Homo sapiens: one gene and its partners. The protein of the gene in region 1 binds, or shares a complex with, the protein of each later gene. Each region holds a gene or a part of one and is shown on either strand. Other genes may lie near its edges. The genes, in order: RBL1, ARID4A, TFDP2 and MYBL2.

Evidence for each region.
Region 2: the proteins of RBL1 (region 1) and ARID4A are in contact, whole or in part, in a crystal structure (PDB 7SMC), measured with the Homo sapiens proteins. Residues at the interface, in NP_002886.2 of Homo sapiens: Tyr849, Ile850, Lys853, Val854, Thr860, Phe861, Gln862, Met865, Lys866, Arg869, Tyr879, Arg880, Asp929, Leu930, Ile931, Tyr934, Asn935, Val939, Ala946, Leu947; in NP_002883.3 of Homo sapiens: Leu957, Val958, Cys959, His960, Glu961, Val962, Asp963, Leu964, Asp965, Asp966, Leu967.
Region 3: RBL1 (region 1) and TFDP2 share a complex: the UniProt entries of both Homo sapiens proteins name them as parts of the DREAM complex.
Region 4: RBL1 (region 1) and MYBL2 share a complex: the UniProt entries of both Homo sapiens proteins name them as parts of the DREAM complex.

Annotation. Positions count from the first base shown.
Region 1 is NC_000020.11:37,092,991-37,099,875, reverse strand, and holds the start of RBL1 (retinoblastoma-like protein 1), read left to right. Parts: upstream 1-3,878; 5' UTR 3,879-3,947; coding exon 3,948-4,103; intron 4,104-6,885. UniProt on the Homo sapiens protein: Key regulator of entry into cell division. Directly involved in heterochromatin formation by maintaining overall chromatin structure and, in particular, that of constitutive heterochromatin by stabilizing histone methylation.
Region 2 is NC_000014.9:58,294,723-58,301,572, reverse strand, and holds the start of ARID4A (AT-rich interactive domain-containing protein 4A), read right to left. Parts: upstream 3,019-6,850; 5' UTR 2,873-3,018; intron 2,383-2,872; exon of another isoform or gene 1,882-2,382; intron 1,776-1,881; 5' UTR 1,719-1,775; coding exon 1,713-1,718; intron 1-1,712.
Region 3 is NC_000003.12:142,146,529-142,153,982, forward strand, and holds the start of TFDP2 (transcription factor Dp-2), read right to left. Parts: upstream 3,017-7,454; 5' UTR 2,655-3,016; exon of another isoform or gene 2,586-2,654; intron 1-2,585. UniProt on the Homo sapiens protein: Can stimulate E2F-dependent transcription.
Region 4 is NC_000020.11:43,662,739-43,670,129, forward strand, and holds the start of MYBL2 (myb-related protein B), read left to right. Parts: upstream 1-4,375; 5' UTR 4,376-4,545; coding exon 4,546-4,565; intron 4,566-7,391. UniProt on the Homo sapiens protein: Transcription factor involved in the regulation of cell survival, proliferation, and differentiation. Transactivates the expression of the CLU gene.

The DNA of each region.
Region 1 (6,885 bases):
CCTGCCTCAGCCTCCCAAGTAGCTGGGACTACAGGCGAGCATCATCACGCCCAGCTAATTTTTGTATTTTTAGTAGAGACGGGGTTTTGCCATTTTGGCCAGGCTGGCCTCGAACTCCTGGCCTCAAGTGATCTGTCCACCTCAGCCTCCCAAAGTGCTGGGATTACAGGCATGAGCCACCATGCCCGGCCCCCATTACCCCCAATTCTTTGATATCTGGTTCAGGTATTCTTAGCTATTATCTTTTAGTTAGTAATTTGGATGAAATGCTTTACTTTTTTTAAACATTGGGGTTAACAACTACATAAAAAATTGAGTTTGCATTTTTCAAAATTAAAGGAAAAAAAGGTAGCCAAAAGGAATCACAAGTATGACTACGGTAGGGTGAGAAAGGAGAGAGTAGCAAATGAAGGCAGAGTTAGACAGGGGACCACCAGACCCTTAGTGCCTTGTAGGCCAGGACAAGGAGCTTGGCTTAACCCTGAAAGAAATGGGGAGTCACTAGAACATTTTCAAACTTTTGGATTTTTGACAATTGAATAGATTAAAATATGGTTTTATACCGGTTTAAACTTGTATATATATTTTTCCTATTAGAAAGGTTGGGGCCGGGCACAGTGGTTCACGCCTGTAATCCCAGCACTTTGGGAGGCCGAGGCGGGTGGGATCACGAGGTCAAGAGATTGAGACCATTGTGCCAACATGGTGAAACCCCGTCTCTACTAAAAAGTACAAAAATTACCCTGGCGTTGTGGCACACGCCTATAGTCCCAGCTACTCGGGAGGCTGAGGCAGGAGAATTGCTTGATCCCAGGAGGCAGAGGTTGCAGTGAGCCGAGATCTCTCCATTGCACTCTAGCCTGGGCAACAAGAGTGAGACTCCGTCTCAATAAATAAATAAATAAATAAATAGAAAGAAAGAAAGTTGGGCATCTTTTCACATCTAAAAGCCATTTACATTTGCTTTTCTAAGATTGTATGCAAATCCTTTCCCCCTTCTGTGGGTAGAGAGGCTTTATTAATCTTTGTAATGCACTACTTCCACAGTGCAGAACCAGCTTAAAGATCACCACTTTAGTTTTTCCTCCAAGGAAAAAGAACATTAAGAATGGTGAGGTCCAGCTGGGCATGGTGGCTCACGCCTATAATCCCAGCATTTTGGGAGGCTGAGGCGGGTGCATCACCTGAGGTCAGGAGTTCAAGACCAGCCTGGCCATCATGGCGAAACCCCGTCTCTACTAAAAATGCAAAAAAAAAAGTTAGCCGGGCATGGTGGCGTGTGCCTGTAGTCCCAGGTACTTGGGGGGCTGAGGAAGGAGAATTGCTTGAACCTAGGAGGGAGAGGTTGCAGTGAGCTGAGATCTTGCCACTGCACTCCAGCCTGGGTGACAGAGTGAGACTCTGTCTCAAAAAAAAAAAAAAAGAATGGTGAGGTCAGGTCTTGCCCCTCCCCCACAAATATCAACTGCTTTTTTTTTTTTTTTTTTTTTTTTTAATAGAAGGTTAGACAAGCAGTTTGTCCTGAGAGGGGCAAGTGCAGACTGATTTTCTGCTTAGGGCATAGCAAAGCTGGAGGACAAAAAAAGAAAAAAAAATTTAAGAATTTCAAAATGAGACATCTTGGGAAAATTAGTTAGAACTTTCTTGTACTTTCTTACACTTATTTTGTGATTTAGAATTGCATATATTTTGAATTACATTTGGAAGGGTACACACTATAATCTTTTTAGTCTTGGAATCCCTAAAGGTCATAATCAGGTTCCAACCACATGCTTTGGGAGAACTCTGAAATATTAAACCACAACAGGGAGGCTAATCATAGAGGCTATCACACAATGGGATCAAAATAGAAACAACCTTCATGTGTATCTGGCTCAAAACTGAAGGGCAGAGTAAATCTATTTCACTACCCATACTTCATTTTCTTTTTTCTTTTTTTTTTTTTTTTTTTTGAGACGGAGTCTCGCTCTGTCACCAGGCTGGAGTGCAGTGGCACGATCTTGGCTTACTGCAACCTCCGCCTCCCAGGTTCCAGCGATTCTTCTACCTCAGCCTGCCAAGTAGCTGGGATTACAAGCGCCCGCCACCATGCCCAGCTAATTTTTGTATTTTTAGTAGAGACGGGGTTTCACCATGTTGGCCAGGATGATCTCGATCTCCTGATCTGGTGACCCGCCTGCCTCAGCCTCCCAAAGTGCTGGGATTACAGGTGTGAGCCACTGCAACCGGCCTTCCATACTTCATTTTCTATTCAGAAAAGCTCAATTTTGGGTTAAATGGGCATGTCCTGGGATAATAAGAAAAAATAAAACCAATATAAGGAAGGGCATATTGATTTTTGGTTTTTTTAAATGCATGCAGGTGAGGCTGGGTTTGACAGATGTGTCCTCAGTTGTTTGTTTTTGAGACAGAGTCTCACTCTGTTACCCAGACTGGAGTGCAGTGGTGCAATCTTGGCTTACTACAGCCTCTGCCTCCTCGGTTCAAGCGATTCTTTATTCTCATGTCTCAGTTGCCCAGGTTGTTAGGATTACACAAGTGCACCCACACGCCCAGCTAATTTTTATATTTTTAGTAGTGACGGGGTTTTGCCTTGTTGGCCTGACTGGTCTCAAACTCCTGGACTCAAGTGATCCACCTGCCTCGGCCTCCCAAAGTACTGGGATTACAGGCAAAGCAAATAATGGAACAACAAAAGAACGAAGACAGGGATTTATTGAAAACAAAAGTACACTCCATAGTGGGGAAGCGAACCCACGCAGCAGCTCAAGGGCCCAGACACAGAATCTTCTGGGGTCCAAATACCCTCTAGAAGTTTCCCATTGGCCACTTTATGCTCTCTTGATGTAACTGAAGTGGTAGCCCACAATCAGTCTGAGTGGTTGCAGAAAGCAACCAATCAGAGGCCAGGGTGAAGTTAACAAAATTATACTTCTATGCAAAGGAAGACTCTCCCGCCATCAGTCTGATTGGTTGTGGACAGCAACCGTTCAGAGGCTGGAGTGAAGTTACAAAGTTGCAAACAAAGACTGGAAGGCGCTCAGTGTGATTTGTTGCAGACAGCCAATTTCCCATCTGCCATGCAGAAAAGGTCCAAGGGAACAGCCTCTGGTTCTTTTGTTACTTAGGCGTGGAAAGTTGGGGTTTTCCTTTCAATTTAGTTCTAAGAAGTCACGTGAAACAGCCATAGGTTCCCTGCCTCCAGACCCTATTCTCCTGCCTCATTTACTGCAGTCTTCTCTGCCTGCCTCTTTTAGCGACTAGCATGAGATGAGGATTCGTCTTCTAATATCCGTCACCAATCCTTCCCCTCTGTCATTTAGCGAACCACTCACTGGGCACTAGGACTTTGGGGAGAGTCCCAAGAGGCCCCTCTTCGTCCAGGGGCTACTTTTTTCTCTTCCAGCCTCCATCTCCTAACTCAAGGGGTACAGCTCAGATTATGTTTGGCGCCCAGGGACAGTGACAAACCCAGGGCCCGTGGATAGAGGAGGCATCTCACTACGCTGCACGAGGCCACCTCGCAGTAGGCAGCCCAGCCCTGCCCCAAAACCCAAGAGCCTAACCAGGAAGACAGGGGGAGGCCGCGGGCTTCATCTCCCAAGAGATGGACTACACCTCCCAGCAGGCTCTGCGCGCGGGCTGAGGATCCCTCCGCTCTTTTTCTGTCCCGCCGGCTGGGCCCCCCGCGACCAGCCAAGGGCCAAGGACAGGTCTTTCAGAATCTGAGGTACATCTTCTTATCACATTTCCGGGGAGGGACTGCTAGGAGCTCCGGAGGAAAAACGGACTTTTTTTGAGGAGAAAAGCGGAGGCAGACGGTGGATGACAACACGTCCCGCAGCTGCAGATTTTCGCGCGCTTTGGCGCAGGTGGTTGTGGGTAGCGCGCCTGGGAGGGAGAAAGAAGTCGGGGGCCGTGGCGCGCAGCCCGCGGGGCCTGAAGGGATGTTCGAGGACAAGCCCCACGCTGAGGGGGCGGCGGTGGTCGCCGCAGCCGGGGAGGCGCTACAGGCCCTGTGCCAGGAGCTGAACCTGGACGAGGGGAGCGCGGCCGAAGCCCTGGACGACTTTACTGCCATCCGAGGCAACTACAGCCTAGAGGTGAGCGGCAGCAGGTGGGGCGGCCGGACCCTACCCTCGCCAGGCCCCACCCCTGCCCCGCCCCTTCCTCGGCCTATGGGGTGGTGGGAGTTTCCCCACCTAGGAGGGTCGCTGCGCAGCCAAGCGCCGAGGGGCGGGAAAGGTGGGTGTAGCTCAGCCAATCCACCCATCATTTTGAGGCGGGAAACTGAAGCTCAGGAAAGGAGCGGCCTAGGTCCCGCGCCGCTCAGACCCCAGGCTTCCTGACCACACTTCCCTCTACCCCGCCAAGCGCCACAAAAGTCATGGTGCTGCCCTTAAATCAGTAAGAACAAATATAATGGTAAAGTGAAAATGAACTGCATGCCAAGACATCACTGCCCAGAGCTTTAAATGGACCCTCAGTTCCGTCTGAACCCCTTCTGTGATCCCCATTTCACGCAAGAGGAAGCGGAGCCCTAGACGGGTTAAGCTACAGGCCCAAGGTCACACGGTTAGAGATGGAGCCAGACCCAGGGTCTGAGCCGTTTAACCTCCACCCTCTGCTTCACCAGGGTGGAGCTGCCGGTCGCTGTGCAGCAGTTTGATCAAAGCCAATGTGCACACGAAGCTGATCTCAGCCCTACGTTTCCTCCTCCGTCAGAGCATCGTCCTGATGCTTTGCATCAGTGTCTGGCTCTGAATAAAACAAATGTCAGTTATAATTACTTGATTTTTTTCCCCATCATTCTTGCATTTTATCCTCGCAACAGCCCTGTGAACATGGCATGGCAATGAGTATTAGACTGCTTTCCAGGTGATAATGGCAAGGCTCAGAAGGTTGTCTTGCCTAGGATTATTCTAATATAGAAACCCAGGCTGGGCGTGGCGGCTCACGCCTATAATCCCAGCACTTTGGGAGGCCAAGGCGGGCGGATCACTTGAGGCCAGGAGTTCGAGACTAACCTGGGCAACACGGCGAAACCCCATCTCTACTAAAAAAATACAAAAACTAGCTGGGTGTGGTGGCGCCTGCCTGTAATCTAGCTACTCGGGAGGCTGAGGCAGGAGAATTGCTTAAACCCAGGAGGCATAGGCCGCAGTGAGTGGAGATCACACCACTGCACTCCAGCCTGGGTGACAGCAAGACTCTATCTAAAAACAGAGAAAGAAACCCAGACGAGCATAAGCCCAGTGTAGACAGAATTGTGATGGAGTGTATTTCATGTAGCACCACTGGCCTCATGTTCAAAGGCTTTCATGTGCCAAGGGCGCTGGACCCACTCCCAGGGTGCACCACTGACTCACCACCCAGTGAAATAATTGCTGGGTTCAAAGGCATAGAGTTGGAAAAGTGTCGATTGTATGTGTGCCTATATATGAAGGAGTAGTACCTGAAAAAAGTGTCTTCAGAACTGGATAGACTGGGTAAAGGACAATGGTCCACATCCGTGGGTGGCATGACTGGAGAGCTGTGGGAAGAATAAGAAAGTAAGGGAGATTAGAATGAATGGCGTCTCAATTGAAAACAGATTGATTTTTGAAAGCCTGAGAAAGCATTTCTGACATCCTAGGTCTGATTTGGTCTCTCTTGCCCAAGGTCACACCATCTGTCATTGAATAAGCATTTACTGTGTCAAACTATGGTCAAGGCATGCACCTGTTTCAGATTCTTGAATATGACAAGTTTGTTCCCAGTTTTGTGGTATATCCATGCCATTCCCTCTGCCTGGAATATTTCCCCTCACCCCCAACACCAGGAAAAGTTGAGAGCTAAATCTCTAGTTAGGCAGAGTTGAATAGGACATCTTCAATGTTTGCTCTACTTATTTATTTTTTCTTTCTTTTTTTCTTCCTTAGAAACAGGGTCTTGGCCGGGCGCACGGTGGCTCACACCTGTAATCCCACCACTTTGGGAGGCTGAGGTGGGCAGATCACCTTAGGTCAGGGGTCCAAGACCAGCCTGGCCAGCATGGTGAAACCCCGTCTCTACTAAAAATATAAAATTAGCTGAGCATGGTGACGTGCACTTGTAATCCCAGCTACTCAGGAGGCTGAGGCAGGAGAATCTCTTGAAACCAGGAGGTAGAGGTTGCAGTGAGCCAAGATCACGCCATTGCACTCCACCCTGCACAAGAGTGTAACTCCATCTCAAAAAAAAAAAAAAAATGGAAAGAAACAGGGTCTTGCTCTTTTGACCAGGCCTGGAATGCAGTGGTGCAATTATAGCTCACTGTAAACTCAAACTTCTGTGCTCAAGTGATGTTCCTGCTTCAGCCTCCCCAGTAGCTGGGACTATAGGCATGCACCACGGTGCTCAGCTAATTTTTCAATTTTTTGTGGAGATAGTATCTGACTATGTTGCCCAAGCTGGTCTTGAACTGGCCTCAAGTGATTTTTCTGCCGCAGCCTCCCAGAGCATTGGGATTACAAGCATGAGCCACCGAGCCCAGCCCAATGCTTGCTTTAGAAAGCACAAATGTATGAACTGAAATTTTGTGTTTATTCTATCCAGTGTTTATTTTCCTCTTTTTTTAAAATCAATTTTTTAAAGGTATTTGGAGTAGTCATTTTCATATATCTCATGCTTCCTAAGAAGTCTTTCTCCAATCCCTACCCCTCTCTAGTCTACCTGACAAACTCCTGCTTACATTTTTATTGATTTACAAATTTTGTCTCCTTTTGTGAGGCCTTCCCTAAACTGTAGTCAAAATCAGTTATTCACTGCACTATATTCTCCTACAACACTTTATCTTCAGTTCTTCTTATAGCTTGTATATCTCACCAATTATAAATGATAGTATCTGTTCCTCTTCTTAGCTCC
Region 2 (6,850 bases), on another chromosome or scaffold:
AAGGAACATAAAACTGTGAATGTCATTACTATGCCTCCCTACTCCAACCTCAAGTCTCATTAAAAGGTTGTGTTTGAAGCATTAAGAATATTAAAATGACTTGCTTATTAATATCATTGAAAATTTGAAAAATACCCTAAATACTTGATTAGCAACCTTTCATTTTATAGACTGATGTCCTGATATGATAAAATGTTTTAAAGTTGTAATTCAAAATTATCAGTGATTAATAATGTTTTGTCTCGATACAAAATTTTTCAAAAATTCTACTATTATATAAGCAGAAAGATAAGAAAAAAACAGAAAAAATATTTCATATTACACATATCATAAAACTAAGTTATTCATTTATAGCTTCCTGAAATTTTTCAAATTAAAAGAAATATTGCTACTAATATTAACACTAACAATACATAATTGTTTATTGACATAGCCACATAAAGGTAACATCTTTTCATAAGGAAAGTATCATTTGGAAAATTCATTTGCTAAAAGCTGCACTTGAAAGGTTTTAAGTCTGAATTCAGCCGATGAATGCAGATATGAACTGATGGCTCCAGACTTGTAGGTATACCTAGTTTACCACACTAATCTTCTTAGTATAAAAAAATAAGCGTTACTAAGAAACATCTACTTTCAGCAAATGGACACGACCAGAATGATACATAGAAAGATGTAAGAAATGTCACTCTACCACTCATTTTAATTTTTACAGTAACAGGATGATTGCTATCTCAATCTGTCATTTTACCTTTTTTTTTTTTTTCCGGAAGTTAAAGTGTATCCATACAAGTTCAACTTAACATTGTTAAGTGCAAAGTTAACAGTGTACACTTTGGAGATACGTTTTGAAGTAGAAAATGATTTTTTGTTTTCTAATAAGTTTTCCCAAGTAATATTAAAGAAGGTTAAATATGTCATTTACTTCGAGAAAATAGAAAACCACGAGAAAGTTTGGGAAAATGCTATATTTCAGAGCTTAATATGCTGAAACAGTAAATAAGACAGGAATTGGGTACCTTTTAAAGTAAGTGCATTTACAAAAAATACAAATTGAATAGGAATGCTTTTGGCAAACAAAAATCTGACCTGAAACATTCAATGGCCACAGCATTCAAGAACGCTATATGAGATCCTTTCCCTTTAACCATCCACATACTGATATTTGCAGTCATCCTCAGTAGAATATGTATCTTTTTAGTATATGTTTTAAAATACTTATTGGAAAGATTTAACTAAAACTATTATTATACTTCAACTTCAAATATTTTAGCCACATAAGTTCATTTTACACACAGAAGAAATGATACCTTCATTACTTAATCCACGTATTCTTTCTTTTAGAAAATCGCATTGGCACACGGGAAGAAAAAAAATTTACAAAAAATCCCCCAAAGAACCAAAGCAGGACAAAAGCTTTACTTCTGCAAAGGTTGCTGCCAACACAGGAAGTGTTTAAAAATACTATCCGAATGGACAACAATTGAAAGGCTGCACCAGCCTTTCCAAAGTACTGCTACAGAGAGGGCCTAAACTCCGCATTTAGACACACAGATCATTTTTCACCCATTCAACACATCCTCCTATGCCGAAACTGCTGATCAGTAGGAACATCAATTTTGAGTAGCAAAACAAATGACATTCCACGGCACTAGCCTTAGGATTGGCAGTGTTCAGGGCGCGAGGATCGGGGCAGAGTTGACTCCACTTACCTTCATTTTTGTTGGTGATCTGTGGGGTTCCAGCTCAGCGAGCTATCTTCGCAGTCGCTAGAACTATGGGGAGGGGGAAAGACAGGCACAGACATAATCAGTCAACTGCGGGGAGCGACCAAGGGAAAGAAAGTAAACAAACGCCAGCGGGGAGGGGCAGAATCCTCACCAGCCAAGGGACAAGACCCCTTACGAGGGCAGCCAGGACGCAGGAGCTGAGGGGGCAGCGAGAACCCCACGAGCGCCAAAGGGCAGCCCGTTCCGCCCCGGAGCTCGCCAGCGGCCCACCGCGCCCCCGCCTCGCTGGCCACTTTGACCCGGAATGCTCAACTCGGAGCTCCAGGACAGATAGCTCCGGAAAAGGCCAGAGCTCCCTTCGGGCTTCCCCAGGTCCCCCGCGGAGACGACCGCCGAGCCTCCGCTCCGCGGTCCCCCGGATACCCCGACTTCGGCCCGCGCCCCGCCTCCGCCGCTCGGCCCCCTCGGCCCGCCCCGGGCCCGCGGTGGCGGCAGCGGAGTGTCACGGCGCCATTGCTCTCCTTCCTTCGCTCTGCACCATGTCAGAAAGGAGAAGCGCTCCTTCACCCAAAGGGGCAGGGGCCGCGGCCTTCAGCCGGGAGCCGCCAGAGCCCCGGGGGACCCGCGTGGGGGAGGGGGCGGGGGGCGGAGGGGAGGAGGAGGGGAGGTGGCCCGGACAGGGTGTGGGAGGGGAGGGGAGCCGCACCGCAGCAGCCGCTGCCTCCTCCCAGCGCCCGCCTCAACTTTTTGTACAGCCCAGAGAGGTATCAGCTCGTAGCCCCTCGAGTCCTGCCACGGACTCCGCAGAGGTGGACGCGCCGCGGAGTTGGGGGACGGCTCCCCCAAGCAGCCCGCTCTTCACCGCGCGGAAGCAAACTTAGCGGCGCGGCCAGCCCCACAGCCATTTTCCCGGGAACCCGAGGAAGCGGACGAGGAGGCGGCTGCAACTGCGGCGGCGGTTCCTGCAGTTGCTGCCGCTGGTCAATGGCTGGCCCCTTCCCTTGCGCTCGCCGTGCCACTTGCCTAGCATCCCTCTCCCCACCTCCAAAGCTTCCAACTGCACCGGGACCTCGGGCAGCAGCAGCTGCTGCTACTGCCACTTCGTCCATTCAGTATCCCCGGATTCCCCTCTCCCCACCTACCAACTGCGGGTGAAGTGCGCGCTGTCAGCTCCAGAGTCCTCCTCCCCTCTGACCTCCGTGGGCCCCCGTCCGGGCAGCACCACTCCCAGCCGCGGCTGCAGTTCCTGCGCCGGGTTCCCCACTCGCCCCGATTTACTGCCACAATCCACCAAATAACAAGCTGTTGAGCAGACTCGCTTCTACACGAACTCCTATTGGCTGCTCATGACGCCGAAGAGCTTCGGATAGGACCTCGCTACCTGCCGTCCTCATTGGATGTAGCTGTGAAACTTCATGGATTGGTGAGAAAAACAGCAGGTAGGACATCTTCCACTTATGATTGGCTTTTTCCGAAAACCAACTTTATTGGAGAGTTGGTTATTGAGTAAGCAAGTCCTGAGAAATGATTGGTAGAGACGACTCCGGATGTGCTTGACTGGGCACTGATTGGTGAATTGAGGGGTCAGGAAGAGCAGTTCGACACGAGGATTGGCGGCGGAGTGTCCCATGGAAACGGAACCCAGAATTGCAGCCAGGGGCTTGCACGGGGGCGGGGCAGGGTCTGTCCAAGGCGCTTGCGCTAAACCAGCTTGTCGGCGCCATTTTGTCTCGGCAGCGGTGGCCGTAGCTCCATCGCATTTTATGTTTCTGGCGAGAAGGGAACGGAGTTTTCATCAGGTAGATTGGTTTTTGTGCGGCCGTCCTCCACCGTTTCCTCCAGGACAGCACCTAGTCGTGGCCGGAGGAGTCTCAGAGCTGTCAGAAAGGTCAGTTGGAGGCTATGGTTGTCCGATTGACTGGGGGGATGGCGCAGCCCTAGCGGCACCGGCACCGGAAGTGAAGGGGCCGCAGGCAGCCATGGTAAACTTCTCCCTGCGGCGGGGTGGGGAGAAGGGGCGGGATGAATGGGGGCGAGGCTTCCTCTCCCGCCGAGATAAAGAGGTGGAGGAGAGGCAAACGTCTTTCTTGGAGGTTCTCTTTCGGGTTTTCGAGAATGTGAGAGATTTTCTGGGTTCTGTCCCACTGCAATCTTTCCTGTCTTTGGAAGTGCATTTCGGGGACTTGCCATGTTCTCCACCTGATTGGCACCAGCTGTGGGAGCCTTCTTAGTTAAGACAGGGAAGAAGTGGTTCTTAGAAACATCCTGCATGGGTAGAGGTTTCCGCGTGCTCCTCACGGGATAAAGCTATGAGGAAACTGGAGAAAGCGCTGGCTTTCTGGATGCTGAGGAATTTACTTGCCAGCGCAGACGCTTCTTCTGTGACCTTAGACAAGGGTCTGTCACTCTGCACGAGGCTTATGCTACTTTTTGAAAGCAAACAGTGGTTTTGCAGGGACTGAAAACATCTTAGACAAAAGGACGTCCCCGATAAGATAGACGTTGATCTTTTTCTGTTAACATCTTATATTCTGTTAAACGAAACACACATTTTTAAATAGCGGAATTGGAGTATAAAATTGACTAGTTTTATAGAATGGAGTAATTTTTAAAATGTGACATATCGTCAGTAATCCACGTGGACTAAATTTTCTCAGTAAGAAAACAGCCGAGCAGAATCAGTTTTTTATTCGTAACAGTAATTTTGCTCAAAAGTATTCATAAAAACGTGAAATGCATGTTGGCATTTCTAGTGAGTGACCTAGTCACACTGGATAGATCCTAATAGTTACCCTCAATACCTCTGTTTTAAACCCTACTGCTATATTGGTGGCGCCCATAACTAGAAAATGATTGTGTGACTTAACAATTACTGGGTTTTTTGGCAGTTGTGCTGAAGAAAACAGAACATCTCAGTGATTACTGAGGTGAGTCATAAAGTCTAAAAATCCTTAGAATTGCGGGGGACTACCTGGAAAAACTTTCTATGGATTAGTAAAGAAATACCAGAATGGGAGGAAGGGTAGTTAAAAGATGTTTTGTTTGGTCAGATTCAAATGAGTCTGTATAATTAGCTTTCTAGTGTAATATTTTAGAATGAAATCCCAAAATTAGGACATCCTTATGGACTTGTTTACCCATTTACGTGGTTCTCATTTCTGGACTTTGATATACCTCATGTTTTTGTTATAAAACATTATGCGTATTTTTGTGATTTCCTCCCCCCCACCCGCCTATTTAAAAAGTTCTTATATAGAAAAGATCTTGTAAATGGGAGTGTTTAGGAGTGAGGCTTTTTTTTTTTTTTTTTTTTTTTTTTTGGAGACAGAGTCTCTCTCTGTCATCGAGGCTGGAGTGCAGTGGCGCAATCTCGTAGGAGTGAAGCAGTTTTTTAAAAGACCTTATAAAACAATATATTACTGAATTTTCTAGGGGGTAAGCATCCATAATTCTACGATCAAAGTTTAAACTGTTATTATTGAATCCAAATAATGCATGGACATTTGGAAATTATTAAAAAGCCCAAAGAAGAATACAAAAATGTCTTCCCTCCTCCAAAAGGTAGTTACGGTTTACACTATAGTTATATATTATACAAAAGGCTTTGTCTTTTTTGTTGGTTTTGTTTTACCAAATATTCTAGTGTTGTTCATTACCGTCTATTCTTTATAGAAAACATTGGGAATATTGGAAATATCTTATCGTAAAGCATCTTTTATGTCTTCATAGTGTTTTGTGGGATAAATATATCATAATTTATGTAACGTGTTTATTTTTCTATAATGGCAGTAATATGTCAGTGAATATCCTTGTACATGTTTTGCAAAATATTGTGTCTAAGAAGGTCGTTGCAAAAGTAATCGTGGTTTTTGCATTATTGGAATTTGCCATTTGATGTTGGACTACGTTGTTAAATAAATGTGGTTATGTTATACATCATTTTAATGGGCATTTCTCGCTTTGTTCTTTTGGTAATGACTTATTACTCTCTGTTTATTTCATGTTTATTTTATTTTATTTTTGAGACAGAGTCACGCTCTGTCGCCAGGCTGAAGTCAGTGGCACCATCTCGGCTCACTACAACCTCTGCCTCCCAGGTTCAAGCAATTCTTCTGCCTCAGCCTCCCGAGTAGCTGGGACTACAGGCGCGTGCCACCACACCAGCTAATTTTTTGTATTTTTAATAGAGCCAAGGGGCTTCACCATGTTAGCCATGGTGGTCTCGATCTCCTGACCTCATGATCTGCCTGCCTCGGCCTCGTAAAGTGGTGGGATTACGGGCATGAGCCACGTGCCCAGCCTTCATGTGTATTTTAGACAATGAAAATGATGTTAGACAAAAAAGCAAATTCGAGCAGTTTTCGTTTTTGAGTTAAAAATGGGTTGTAAAACAACAGAGACACCATATCAGCAATGCATATGGTTCAGGAACTGTTAACTTACAGTGCAGTGGTGATTCAAGAAGTTTTTTTGTTGTTGTTGTTTGAGATGGAATCTTGCTCTTTCAGGCTAGAGTGCAGTGGCATGATCTTGGCTCACTGCAACCTCTGCCTCCTGGGTTCAAGCCATTCTGCCTCAGCCTCCCCAGTAGCTGGGATTACAGGCACGCACCACCATGCTCAGCTAATTTTTGTATTTTTAGTAGAGATGGAGTTTCACCATCTTGGCCCAGGCTGGTCTCGAACTCCTGACCTCGTGATCCGCCCGCCTTGGCCTCCCAAAGTGCTGGGATTACAGGCTTGAGCCGCTGTGCCTGGCAGTTTCAAGAAATTTTGCAAAGGGAAGGAAAGTCTTGAAAATCAGGAGCGTAGTGGCTGGTCGCCAGAAGTTGATAACTACCGGTTAAGAGCAATCAGCAAAGCTGATCCTCTTAAGGCTACTTGAGATGTTGCCGAAGAACTCAATGTGGACCATTCTACAGTCCTTCAGCATTTGAAGCAAATTAAAAAGTGAAAAAGCTCGATAAGTGGGTGCCTCATGAACTGACCGAAAAAAAAAGTCATTGTTTTGAAGTGTCCTTATCCCTTATTTTTTGCAACAACAAACCATTTCTTGGTCAGATTGTGATGTGCGAGAAAAAGTGGATTTTATACAACAACTGGTGATGGCCAGCTCAGTAG
Region 3 (7,454 bases), on another chromosome or scaffold:
TAAACACAGGAAGGTTAGCCCCAAAGTTAATCTTCTTAACTAGTAAATTATTATAAAGTAACAGTGTAATGTGGTTGCCAAAGAAGCAAGTCTACTCTTAAAGTACATGCTTTAAAATTAGAGAGGTAACTTAGTCTTCTATACTAGTTAATACCTAATTTGGGGTACCATGCTTGTCAGAAGAATGTGGATGAACTAAACAAATCCACAAGTGGGCTATGAGTTCTGTGAGGAGATGTGAATGAAAACAATGACACAAAAGTCACTAGCAGAGGTTAAAGACTGAGAATATTTTCTAACACTCAGTGGAATATAAGTATCTTCAAATAGTTGAAAACCCACAATACAGAAGAGACAGTGAGGACACAATTTCTAGTTCAGTGAAAGAAATAATTTTATAAAAATTAGAGTTGTCCAAACATGGCGAGGTGTGTGCCTATAACCCCAGCTACTTGGGAGGGTGAGGTGGGAGGATCACTTGAGCCCAGGAGTTCCAGACAAGCCTGAGCAACATAGAGAAACCCTGTCTCAAAAAAAAAAAAAAAAAGAATTGATCAAATATCTTTGCCTCAGAAACTATGACACTATAAATAGTCTCTCCAAAAAATATACAAATATGCATAATTTTGCATAATATTTCCAAGAGTTCACAAGCCTACTTTCATATCTATTCATGCCGCACACCTAGAGTCATGTATCCCAGATTAAAACGGAAAGGATTTAAGTATGAAGAGGTGAGTGTATTTGATTCTCTTTAAAATCCACTACAATTTAAAATTCTATGATCTAAAAGAACTCTCAATCTATGCCTTCTAGTTTCTTCTGAGATCCATTATAACACATATTGCAATAAGAGTTTAAAAGATGATGACAAGGAAGTACATCCCACTTCATCAGTTATATTGAGGGCACACGGCTCAGACAGTTAAGAATTTTAGCTGCCAGAGAAAAACTTCCATGTGCCACTTGGACTACACATTCACAAGAGTCAGGGTGGGAGGAATTACATGATCACAAAATGAGAATATGAAGTATTACACACTGCAAAAATTCAGCTTTCCTTTTTAAACACCTAGAAATGAAGAGAACTGAAAAGTAAGAGTTTAGTAAGTCTTGAACCTTTTATTAACAAATGTAAGGGCCACAGTGCTCAAACTGCAACTGCACAGCCAGAACAACGCTACAGACACCATGTCTACTCTTAGACTAGACTAGTTACAGGCACAAGATGTTCTAATAAATAACAAACACATCCAGAGCCAGTACACAAGTGTGACAGAATCTGGGGTCTAGGCATTTGATTTTTCTCCTGGTGCTGTCTGAGAATGGACACTGCCATTAAAGATTAATTACAGTAATCTGATAGTGATAAAGTTTAGCTAAATAACAGGCTAAACAATGAAATGGAAAAGGAAGCTGCAATATAGATCAATTAAACTATTTTTATATCTACTTTTAAAGAGAGACAGGGACATGATTATGCCATATAGAAAATAGATGAATATATATTCACGAGCTGAAAAAAAAAACAGGTAAATTATTTATTAGGTGAAGATAAATTCAAGCCATGAAGAGAAAACACATGGCCCAGAAAAAAAAAAAAGTAGGTTGTGCAAGTCAAATGAAAAGACACAAAACTCAGATCTCGGGGAGACAGGGGAAGGAGAAGGCTGAGCTAAAAGAGAGCCTTACTGAAAGAAAGCAAATAAGTGAGAGGGAGTCTGTGCCCTCTGAGATGGAATGAGGAAAAGATAAAAGTATTCATGGGCTCAAAGGCAGCTTCAGCAGTGAATATGGAAAAGGAATGAGCCCGTTCACTGTCTCAACACTAAAAGGGAAATAATATAGGGTCTTTTTCTAAACCAGCATCCATGGCAGTCAATAATAAAAGTGCCTAACTAATGCAAGGCATTTAATACGTGGAGGATTTTCTTACGATTGCATTCCATACATTAGTCCATTCACTCCCCGAAACACACCGAATAGGTGGATGCATCTAATTTACAGATGAAGAAACCGAGATCACACAATGGGAGATAGCACAGGCTGGTAAGAGAGACTGGGGCGCTCATCCACTTCGTTGTACTGTCTCTCAGCGAGATCCTAGGAAAACCCTTACACTTCTTTGTGAAGACAGACCTTGGCTTTCCAGATTTTCTCAAAGGAGTCTGGGCCCAAAAAGCGATCCTCTACTTCAGAGAAAAGTTCCTTTATGGGGCATATGAGGTTCTTCCAAGCACACAAAGCTTAGAAACTCTTTAAAAACAAACAAAACACCTGGTGGACACAGAGGCCTGTGAGTCATGAAAGGAGAAGGGAAAAATCGGAAAACCAGATTTAGAAGCCATCCTTCTTTGAAGAGAACGAGAAAGTAGAAAGCAGCCCTTCCCCTCTTCCACGAGGCGTGACTCAGGGACGTTACCTCCCCCGATTTGCTCTATGCACTAAGAGGGTGACCCTCCTCTGCTTTCGACTCTGGCCCAGACACTCACGGGTTACCCGGCCAGGCCTGGAGAACCCAGGTCTAAACAGATGGGACTCGTGGGGGAACAAGGGGGCCCCTGTGCGCAGGGAGGGAAACCTACCCAGGAACGCGCCCGGCCGGGTCCAAAGGCCCTCCGCGCGCGGGCCCGCGCCCTCGCCCCAGACCTTACCGCCTTCGGCTGCAGAAGAACTGGCGGCCAAGCGAGGCTGTCGGGCCGAGCCAGGAGCGCGTCTTCGGGCGCCGCCGCTTCTGTGGCGCCCGCGCTTAGGCGGCGGCCGGGTCCCGGTGGACTCACACCCGGGGAGACGCGGCCTGCCCGGTCAAGGCCCAGGAGTTTGAGGCCCCAGAACGCCAACCGTGCGCGCGCCCTCGAGCCTGCCCAAAGATGAAGGGTCAGGGCGCGCCCCGCGGGCCGGGCAGCTGCGGCAGCGCCGCAGCCGAGATCGCTACCGATTTCGTCCGCCCTCTCCCTGCCCAGCTACAGCCCCGCTTCCCCCGCGCGAGCTTTGGCGGCGGAGCAGCACAGTGCGCGCCGATTGGCCCTCAGAATGTGCGACGCCTGGCGCCGCTCCCCACGGATTGGCCGGGCCGGCAGTGCGTGCACGGAGTAAACAAACCCCGCCCCCAGGCTTCCCTTTGAGAGTAGGGGGCCAACAGATGGAGGGGCGGGACTCGTGCACTCAGCCACCGCCCCTTGGTTCCCCCTGTGGCCTCCCTGGGAGCCCTCCGCAGGACCCGACCACCCCGCTTCCCCGCCGCCTCCAGGGACAGCTGCGGGCCTGAGGCCTAGAATTTTAGACACACTTCCTTCATCACTCCTATCTCATCCCCCCTACTCCCACCCTGCGACTTGGGTGGGAATCTCTTTTCCAACTGACCCCGAAGCCAGAAAACCCCAGCTCTCTTGGAAGGAGGGGGACTGGGGCAGTTCCATTCGGTCCCCAGGCCTTTGCGGGGTCGCCCTGGGGGAGCATCAATAAGGGACAGGGGGGCGAGTGATCGTGATTGAGGCTATGCGTGGGGCCAACTGTGGGACACCTTGAAATTATTCAGACAATGAGTTAGAGACCACTGGGAATGTGGAGGTTCTTCAATATCAAGGCAAGTTAATACCCAAACCAGGACAGGTCATTCTGTCCCGCGGAAACTGCACACACCCCAAATACCCGTACACTTGGTTCCATATGAAAAGATTTTGTTCATTCGTTCGTGCCGAAGTTAAAAACCCCGTGTGAACAGCGCATTAAAACGATTAGATCTTTCTCATTTTACTCCAGTCAAATCTTATAGATCTTCTATATGCCACTTTGTTTGTTTTTGAGACGGGGTCTTGCTCTCACCGAGGCTGGAGTGCGGTGGCAGGATCACGGCTCATTGGAGCCCTGACTTCCCAGTCTCAGGTGATCCTACCACCACAGCCTCCCGAGTAGCTGGGACTACAGGCCCGCGCCACCACACCCGGCTGTTTCGCCATGTTTCCCAGGCTGGTTTGGAACTCCTGGACTCAAGAGATCCTCCCGCCTGGGCCTCCCAAAGTGGTGGGATTACAGGCGTGAGCCACCACGCCCGGCCCCAAACACTATTCTTGATATGGGGAGACATCAGTGGACAAAATAGAGACAAAAACTCCTGCCTTCATGGAGCTTACATTCTAGCAGGATGGGAAAGATAATATGCAAAAGAATACGTAAAACAAAAACTATATTACATGCTGGTATGTGTGCTATGGGAAAAAAATATAAGCAGAGGTGTTGGAGGAATGGCTTCAGTCCTAAATAGAGTGATCTGGGAAGGTAGCACGGAGAAGGTGGTATTTAAGCAAATGCCTAAAGGAGATGAGATAGGTAAGAGAGCACTTTCAGATCTTTCTCTGGGGCAGGGTGGAGAGACAATTGTATGCATAATTGCATGTAACTAGTCCTGAGAGTCCAAGAATGTCAAATGCAGTACTCCACTGACTGATTCTAAAATGCAAAAACCCCAGTGATTACTTCACATTCTCCAGTAACAAATCAATAAAAATTTAGTTTCCACAAAAAATATAACTTTAAGAAAACTTAAAGTTATATTCAACAAATACTTTTCACTCTAGGTACTACGTATACAAAAATGAGCAAGACAGACAAAACATCCACCCTCAAGGAACTCAGTGTAGCAGAGGAAATGGATTGTAAACCACCTCAATTCAATGCGTAAATAACCATGATGGAAGTACACACACAAAGTGCTTGGGCTAATGTAGGGAAAGGGGTCGCTGTCATAGAGGAGCTGTAACTATCTTAGGATCTCTTTATCTATAAAAGATAGTACTAAAAGATTCAGTACTAAATTTGGAGTGAAGTTATGGCTATGAGGGATTCCCTAACCTCTTTATAGGTCAGAGTCTGAAGATACTAGGTTGAACCACATGAAATTGCTGATATTGGGCAATTTTCATATGGTTCAACTTACTCTCTTGCAGAGGTAGTATGAGGATTTTGCTATGTAATGCATGTAGTAAGTGTTCAATAAATGATGGCAATTATTATATTCATCGTATAATATAGCTTTTGAAAATAAAGATTTAAAAGTCAATGTTTTATAACACCTTCCAACGCCATTACATAAAATGGGCAGTGAAAGTTTCAAATTTTCCATATCCTAGTTTGATTTAGTTGTGAATTTCCATGACCTAATCAGGGCATGTTGTAAAAGACAGTAAATGTTAGTTTCACAGCAGGCCAAGAAATTCAGAATAAGGAGGAACAGCTTGGTTTTTAAGCCAAAAACTGAGAATTCTCCAGAACAGAATAAATTGTCAAGTTGCTACAGGGAAGAAAATTCATGTAAATCAATTTTTCATTCCCACTCATAGTTCCAATTTAGCAATTTGCACAACAGTCAGCTTTCTTTCTTATTTCCCCATTAAGGGATCTTATTTCCTTTGAAAAGGAAAATAAAGTTTCCACCATCTCCAATGCCAGAGAGTAGACATCTGAAATGTGACAGAACATTTATTGATTCTGCAAACATTTATTAAGCACTTATTGTATGCCAAGAACTATGCAAGGCACTGGCAATACAAACAGATGTCCAAAGAGCACCATTCATTGGCATTCCTTATGCTTGGAACAATCCCCCAGTTCACCCACAACTCACCTGCACATGCCTTTTCATCTAAACTTAAACAACACTTTCTCCAGAAAAGCTTCCCCGGAGTCCCCATCTCCAACTGTTTTCCCATAAAATTTTCTTTGACTTTCCAACATTCATTAAACTTGTAATTACTCACTTGCTACCTGCATCCCATTAGACTGTAAGCTTCTAGAGTCAAAGTCATATCATTCTATTCACTATCATCTCCTCAGTGCTTAATGGAAGTTCAATGTTTTTATTGAATAGATGAGAGTCCACAGCCCAGCAAATTTGGAAAGAGGAGAGAGGTATAATAAAGTCTACTCTATTTAGAAATATGCGGGCCACAGAATAGCCAACACAAAGAGGGTTGTGAAAAAGACGGGTCCATTACAGTTAAACCTGAGGCATTTCCACGTGCTGCCCCCTCTGCTGGCACTGGATACTGCTTTTGCAGGTGGAAGTACCAGACTCCTGGACCACTGCCTCTCAAACCTTGAGGTGCACAGTAATCACTTAGGGAATCTTACAATTCAGTCTGTAAGGTGTGGCTTCAATTCTGCATCTCCAACAGGCTTCCAAGTGATGCTGGTGCTGCCTCAGCAGCCAAAAATCACACTTGGAGTAAGAAGGTCCTTAGTGACACCTTTTATCACATGAAAAGATCTGCAGTTGTCAGAACAGTTTCAGATTTTTTTTTAAAGCATCTTCTTTTCACACCAAATCCATCTAGTGACTGACAAAAGAAATAACACTTATAAGTGTTAAATCTGGGTCTTGCTTCTAGAGACAATCCTGTTATGTACAGTTTAATCACCTTAATAGGACAGAGTAGAGGCGAAGCCTCGGAATTTCCTCAGGGAGGGATTCAACCTCTCCCCAGTTTTCTGGAATGACTGCATTAGAGCAGTAGAAAGGTTTCAAAGTCACCCTTAATAAAAGTAACCCCTTAATATCAAACCTAAAATATTTTTAGGATAAAATATTTTATTCACCCTAAAAAATATAAAGTAAATGTGAGATATGAGGAATCATGATAAACCCTCATGTACCTGCTTAAGCAACATATTATTAACACCATTGAAACCTCATGTGCCCCCTACCAGTGTGTCCCCACAACTTTCCCTTTCCAAAATAACATCTTAAATTCTGTGTATAATTTCCATGTTCTTCTTTATAATCTTAACACACGTGTATGTATATCCAAATAATATATTGCTTAGCTTTTCATGTTTTTGAACTTCATAAATTTAGAATAAAATTTATTATTCATCTGCCAATCTTTTTTTGTTCAACATTTTAAGAGGGTCATCTATCTTGATGGGTGGTCATTCATTTTCACTAATGCAAAAATAACATTTACATACTCCATTCTATTTTATTATTTTTTTTTTAATTTTATTTTGAGACAGACTCTTGCTCTGTTGCCTAGGTTGGAGTGCAGTGGTGCAATCTCAGCTTACTGCAACATCTGCCTCCCAGGTTCAAGTGATTCTCTTGCCTCAGCCTCCCAAGTAGCTGGGATTACAGGTGCGCGCCACCAATCCCAGCTAATTTTTGTATTTTTAGTAGAGACGGGGTTTCACTATGTTGGCCAGGCTCGTCTCGAACTCCTGACCTCAAGTGATCCGCCTGCCTTGGCCTCCCATAGTGCTGGGATTACAGATGTGAGCCAACATGCCCGGCAGATAATCCATTCTCTTACTGAAAGGCATTTGGGAGTTTTTACCTTTTTTCATATTCTGATGCTATGAATATTCCTGTCTCCTTTGTACATGTGAAATTTTCCACAGGGTCTTAGATTATGAACAGGGGTGACAGTCAAAATATTTAACAACTGGTAATGCACAGATCT
Region 4 (7,391 bases), 6.6 Mb from region 1:
AAGTGCTGGGATTACGGGCATGACCACTGTGCCCAGCCTGAATCTCTTTTGATGACCCATATTTTATGAGATACAATTCAAACTCTAGCATTCCCAGCTTTCTCACTTGAGGTCCAAGCCTTTCTAACTCTCCAGCCCAAATGTTAGCTTTGTAACATTGCATCCACTCAATTTAAATGGAATGTGTAGAACCCCTTCCATGAGTACCTACCAGAAGCCAAGCTATAGTAAAGGTCTGAAGCTTAAAATGTGCACAGGCTGTCCTTTCTCTTGAGAGAGAAATAAAATGGTGGAGGAAGTGTGATGAGGACAAGAATGATAAGGAGGATGCTCTGGAGGTGGAGGGGGAAGACTCCAGCCAGAAGGGCCATGTGATTCTACTTATCATCAATTAGTGTTTGGTGTCCAAGCTGGTGCTGAGCCCTGAGCATTTAATAAATTGATTTGACCCTTATCTTCCCAACACAGGGTCAGGCCTGGGGGTTGGGGCAAATTGTGGAATAACCAAATACCTGGAGCCTCCCTGTCCAAGGAGGGCGTGTTCAGGAAAAGTTTCCCAGCAGAGATAAATTCTGTATGTTACTAGTCCAGAGTCCAGGGACCACTCCCAGGTGTGGTTTCACTCGGGACACTGGGAATCCTCTCTCCAGGGGATATCTGTTGGTATGATGATAACTGGAGAGGAAATGTGTGGAGATCATCAGATTCCATCTGGCACTAGGGTGATCTCCCTGCTGCCTGACTCACAGCACTGACTCCAGGCTTCTTTGGCTCTGGGGCATTGGTTAACTGGCCCCAGTTCCAGGTTGCAAGTGCACTCTGCAGCTGTTCCCTGCCTCTTGCTTTGGGCAGATACCTTGCCCAAGCTGTCAGGTCCTGCCTCTCCCTGAAATGGGATGACTAATGTGTGGACCTCAAAGGATAAGAGTGAGGGCAGCTGAAGAATTACAGTAGTAATAATAGCTAACAGTAATATAGTTCTTTTTTTGCTGGGCGCGGTGGCTCACGCCTGTAATCCTAGCACTTTGGGAGGCCGAGGTGGGTGGATTGCCTGAGATCAGGAGTTTGAGACCAGCCTGGGGAACATGGTGAAACCCCGATCTCTATTAAAATACAAAAAATTAGCCAGGCGTGGCGGAGTGCTTCTGTAACCCCAGCTACTCGGGAGGCTGGGGTTATTGAGACGGAGTCTTGCTCTGTTGCCAAGGCTGGAGTGCAGTGGCACGATCTCAGCTCACTGCAACCTCCGCCTCCAGGTTCAAGTGATTCTCCTGCCTCAGCCTCCTGAGTAGCTGGAGTTACAGGTGCATGCCGCCACGCCCGGCTAATATTTTATATTTTTAGTAGAGATGGGGTTTCACCATGTTGGCCAAGCTGGTCTCAAACTCCTGACCTTAGGTGACTCACTCGCCTCAGCTTCCCAAACTGCTGGGATTACAGGCATGAGCCACTGTGCCCGGCCAATATAGCTCTCATTATGTGCCAGGAACTGTTTTTGGTGCTTTACACATATTAATTTATTTAATCCTATAATTACCTACAAAGTATAGTGATTAAGAGCATAGACTCTAGAACTAGACAGGCCAGGTTTGAATCCCTGCTCTGCCATTTACTAGCACTGTGACCTTGGGGAAGTCTGTGCCTCAGTTTTCCCATCTGCTAAAAGAGGATAATCCCAGTATCTACCTCATAGAGTTGTTACAAGGATTAAATGAGTTACAATTTATAAACAGAATGCTGGCTGGAAATATTAGCTGGGCATGGCGGCGTGCTCCTGTAACCCCAGTTACTTGGGAGGCTGATAGTTTAAAAACTATCTAAAATTTTGATAAATCCCATTTTTCCAGGTGAGAAAACTGAGGCACAGAAGAGTTAGGTAATTGGCTGGGCATGATGGCTCATGCCTGTAATCCCAGCACTTTGGGAGTCTGAGTCGGGTAGATCACCTGAGGTCAGAAGTTCAAGACCAGCCTGGCCAACATGATGAAAACCCATCTCTACAAAAATACAAAAAATAGCCAGGCATGCTGGCGCATTCCTGTAGTCCTAGCTACTCGAGAGGCTGAGGTGGGAGAATCATTTGAATCCGGGAAGTGGGGGTTGCAGTGAGCCAAGATCACACCACTGCACTCCAGTCTGGGCAATAAAGCAAGACTTGGTCTAAAAAAAAAAAAAAAGTTAAGTAATTTGCCTAAGATACCGCAACTGAATGGTGGAGCTGGGACTCAAACCCCAGGAAGTTTGGCTGTGGAGGCTGTGCTTTCAATGAAGTGGGCATGTCCACATTAATTACTTTATAAGGGGAGTGGGCGGGAGAAACCCTGAATTAAGTGATGTGGAAGCTTCTAGCACTTAAGATGTGAGTTAGTCTTCCTTCTGTGGTAAGTGAAGTTTGCAGCAGCTGGTGGCTGGACTGTCCCCAGGTGGCCAGCAGCTTCTGGAAGGGGGCTCTGAGGCCTGAACAGGGGCTAAAAGGCTGGGGTTTGATTTGGTTTCTTCAGCGTCCTGTCTCAGAGCTCATTTATCTTCCTCTCAGCACTGCTCCCAGGAAGTCCAGTGTGACTTGATCCTTGGTACTTGGTAAATGTCAATCTAATATAGAAAACCTTTGCTAAATCTCAAGGAAAGACAGTCTCACTGTCTGTCGCCCAGGCTGGAGTGCAGTGGCGGGATGACAAGGGCTTGAGCCCCTCGAACTCCTGGGCTCAAGCAATCCTCCTGCCTCTGCTTCCCAAGTAGCTGGGATTACAGGCATTCACCACCACAGCCAGGTAATTTCTTAATTTTTTGTAAAGACAGGGTCTCACTCTGATCCCCAGGCTGGTCTCAAACTTTTGGACTGAATCAGTTCTCCCACCTCGGCCTCCCAAACTGCTAGGATTACTGGCATGAGCCACTAAATCTGGGCTAATCTCTGGGAGTTTAAACCCAAGGTAAACAATTCAATGCAACAAACCTTTGCCTGGGGCTTCTTATGTCAGGTCTTCTACTGGGCCCTGGAGATACTGGTGTGCATTGAGAGGCCACCTGGACCTCAGGATGCTCCCAGTTCAAAGGGGGAAATGCAGAAGTCTACAGGCAGATTGTGGGCAGTGGACCCCAAATTAAATAGGAATCAGCCACGTGGGAGGGGCAGGAAGTGTTCCTGCCCTGGGTAATGGCTCAGGCAAAGGCAAAGAGGCCGTTTCTTTTGGCCAGGGCTGGGTGGTGGTCTGGAAGATCAGATAAATGTGATTGTGGAGTAAGGAATTTACCCTGAGGGAGAGGAGGATGGTTTTAAATTCTGGAAAGAGCTCACGCCTGCAATCCCAGCACTTTGGGAGGACAAAGCGGCAGGATCTCTTGAGCCCAGGAGTTTCTAGACCAGTCTAGGCAACAGCAACATAGCAAGACACCCCCTTCTCTTAAAAAAAAAAAAAAAAGCGCAGTGGCTCACTCCTGTAATTCCAGCACTTTGGGAGGCCGAGGCGGGCGGATCACGAGGTCAGGAGACCTATACCATCCTGGCCAACATGGTGAAACCTCGTCTCTACTAAAATACTAAAAAAAAAAAAAAAAAAAAAAAAAAATTGCCGGGCGTGGTGGTGTGCGCCTGTAGTTCCAGCTACTTGGGAGGCTGAGGCGGGGGAGTCGCTTGAACCCGGGAGGTGGAGGTTGCAGTGAGTCAAGATCGCGCCACTGCACTCCAGCCTGGCGACAAAGCGAGACACCGTCTCAAAAAAAAAAAAAAAAAAAATCAGCCGGGTGTAGTGGCGAGTGCCTGGTCTTAGCTACCCGTGAGTTGAGGTAGGAGGATCGCTTGAGCCTAGGAGGTGGAGGTTGCAGTGAGCTATGATCGCGAAACTGCACTCCAGCCTGGGCGACAGAGCAAGACCCTGCCTCTAAGAAAAATGAACAACAAAAAATAAAGTCTATTAAGGAGGGTCTCTTGGAGGCAGGAGAGGAAGCAGGGAGAGGCACAGGTAGGGTGAGGAGCCGCTTTAGGGTGCGGCTCTAGGGACCCAGTAGTGGCTTGGACTAGCGTGGGGGATTCCGCCCTGGCGCTTTCCCTGGCTGGCTCTCCCATGCTCGCGCCTCGCTCCCCTTCCTCGGTCTTCGCTATGTGGGATACTCCTGGGCCGCCCCGGACTGACACGTGAGCCAGGCCTCGGTCACATCCCGGCCCGCTCCACAACTCCGAAGTAGCGGCCGCCGCCCCTGTCCTGCAGCCGGCCCTGGAGGGTCTGGGCAGGTGCCGCCCCGCAGGCCCCGCCCCGCCCCGCCCCCTGGCTCCGCCCCTCACTCAGGCCCCTCCCCCGGCGCCCGCGCGCCAGGACTGGGCGGCGCCGACGCGCTTGGCGGGAGATAGAAAAGTGCTTCAACCCGCGCCGGCGGCGACTGCAGTTCCTGCGAGCGAGGAGCGCGGGACCTGCTGACACGCTGACGCCTTCGAGCGCGGCCCGGGGCCCGGAGCGGCCGGAGCAGCCCGGGTCCTGACCCCGGCCCGGCTCCCGCTCCGGGCTCTGCCGGCGGGCGGGCGAGCGCGGCGCGGTCCGGGCCGGGGGGATGTCTCGGCGGACGCGCTGGTGAGACGAGCCGGGAGGGCTTGGGCCCCTCCCCCTCCCTTTAACTCACCCCTCCCCCACCCAGATACCCCCGACCCTCCCCAGGCTCCCACCAAGCTGGGGTGTGTGTGTGTGTTGGGGGTGGGGTGTTTCCGCGGAAATGCTGCGTCCTGGGCCCTCTGAGGCAGGGGCGCGCGTAAAGCTGGGGGGCTCTTGGGCGTCCCTCGCGGCTCCCCAGGCCTGTTGGGCCTCGGAGCTGGGACGGGCGGGTCTCTTGGGACCCGGGCCAAGCCGTGCATGATGTCATTTTGTCTCCCGCCTAATTGCGGGATGGGGGTGGGCCGGCCGGTGTCAGCTGGCAGGGCCTTCGCCGGCGAGGGAGGCGACCCCTGGGAGCGAGAGGGAGTCTTCAAGTCCCAGCCAGTGGGAGACCGAGCCTGGGAGGCACTTGTTGCAGCCTAGTTTTGGGTCAACTTGGTGGGTGGGCTTTGCTCCTTAACATTCCGGGGAGCACAGAGTCCCCCAAGCCCTCTCCCCTGGACTGAGAAGGGTGCTGAGTTGGGGGCTCTTTTGTCTCTCCCACCTGGGTTCCGCGCCCCAGCTTGGTTCGGTTTGAGACCTCTCTTCCTGTTCCCACGAGGAGTTTTGGGCAGCTGGGGTTGAAGGTGCGGGGGAGAGAGAGAGTCCCTGGGGCAAAGGCAGGAACTGCGGTCTCCATTTTACTTATTTCCCCAGAGACTTAAGTGGCAGAGCTGAGCCCGGAGCCAGGTCTGTGGCTCCAGATCCCTGTCTTACACCTGTGCGCCTGGGGCCTGAGCTCCAAGCTTTTCAGCCTGCCTGGGAGACAGGACAGTGGGGTCCTGACCTCTTCCCTGCCTGGATCGCTGCAGCTCAGATAACCTTCGTTCCCTCTTTTTTTTTTTTTTTTTTTTTTTTGAGAAGGAGTCTCGCTCTGATGCCCAGGCTGGAGTGCAGTGGCGCGATCTTGGCTCACTGCAACCTCCGCCTCCCAGGTTCAAGCGATTCTCCTGCCTCAGCTTCCCGAGTAGCTGGGACTTCAGGCACGTGTCACCACGTCGGGCTAATTTTTTGTATGTTTAGTAGAGACAGGGTTTCACCATGTTAGCCAGGATGGTCTCGATCTCCTGACCTTGTGTTCCGCCCGACTCGGCCTCCCAAAGTGCTGGGATTACAGGCGTGAGCCACCTTGCCCGGCCAAACTTCGGTCCCTCTTTAGACGATAGCCTCATCTAAAGATGAAGCCTTCCATCCCTCTAGATTTTTGCCCTTTCAGGCTGAGGATAGGGATCTGAGCACAGGGACTGTGTTCCTCAGGCCCCACTTTCCCAGGCCAATGTCCAGGAAGAGTTTTCTGTTCAGGCGCCTATCAGACCCTGCCCTGGTTTTTTTTTTTTTTTTTTTTGAGGCAGGGTCTCCGTCTGCAGTCCAGGCCGGAGTGCTGTGGTGCTGTCATAGCTCACTGTAGCCCCAACCTCCCAGGTTCAAGTGATCTTCCCAACTCAGCCCGCTGGGACTGCAGGCTGAGTAGCTGGGACTATGGGCACGGGCCGCCACAACTGGCTAATTTATTTAATTATTTAGGAGACAGAGCCACTCTGTGTTGCCCAGGCTGGAGTGCAGTGGCACAATCTCGGCTCACTGCAGCCTCTGCCTCCCGGGTTCAAGGAATTCTGTCTCAGCCTCCCAAGTACCTGGGACTATGGGCACACGCCGCCACGCCTGGCTAATTTTTTGGATTTTTAGTAGAGATGGGTTTCACTGTGTTGCTCAGGCAATCCGCCTGCCTTGGCCTCACAGAGTGCTAGGATTACAGGCGTGAGCCACCGCGTCTGGCGTGTTTTATTTTGTGTAGAGATGGAAGGGGGCGGGAGTGGCCTCGCGTTGTGTCTCACCTCACTATGTTACCCAGGCTGGTCTCGAACTCCTGGCTTCCAGGGATTCTCCCCCACTTGGCCTCCCAAAGTGTCGGGATTACAGGTGTGAGCCACCTTGCCTGGCGCCATCCTGATTTTTTGTTCAGGAAGAGTTATTCCAGGAGTGACTGCCTCTAGACCACCCCAGGTCCTGGGCTACTTCTCCCATGAGGGGCTCAGTGGAGGAACCCCTCCTGTGTGAAGGATGGCAGCTCCACAGCCCTCAGCCCATTTCCTGGCCACTTGCTGTAACTCTCCTCTGCCCTAGTGCCCCACTTCCCGCTTTGTCTCTGACTCACCCCTGTCCTGGAGCAGAGCCCAGCACGTTGAAGGGCAAAAGGTAGGGTATGTTGGACCACAATGTGGTTGCCACCACTAACTGGACTCTGCTTTTTCAGCTGGGATTAGGATATGAGGACTTGCAGGTGTCTGGAGTTAGGAAGGTTCAGAGCCTGGCTCTATGAACTTGGCAGGTGGCCTCACCCCTCTGAGCCTCAATTTCCGCATCTGTTAAGGGGGATAATGAGAATGTGGGTGAAGTTGATGGCCAGCACATATGGTAAAGTATATCATCTCACAGAAATGCCCCAGCTGTCTGAGATGCTGACCCTATCAAACAGCATTGGAGGCTGGGTGTGGTAGCTCATGCCTGTAATCCCAGCACTTTGGGAGGCCAAGAGTTCAAGACCAGCTTGACCAATATGGTGAAACTCCTCGTCTCTACCAAAAATACAAAAATTAGCCGGGCGTGGTGGTAGGCGCCTGTAAGCGCGGCTATTCGGGAGGCTGAGGCAGGAGAATTCACTTGAACCCAGGAGGCAGAGGTTGCTGTGAGTCGAGATCATGCCACTGCACTTCAGCCTGGGTGACAAAGCGAGACTCTATCTCAAAATAAACAAACAAACAAACAAAC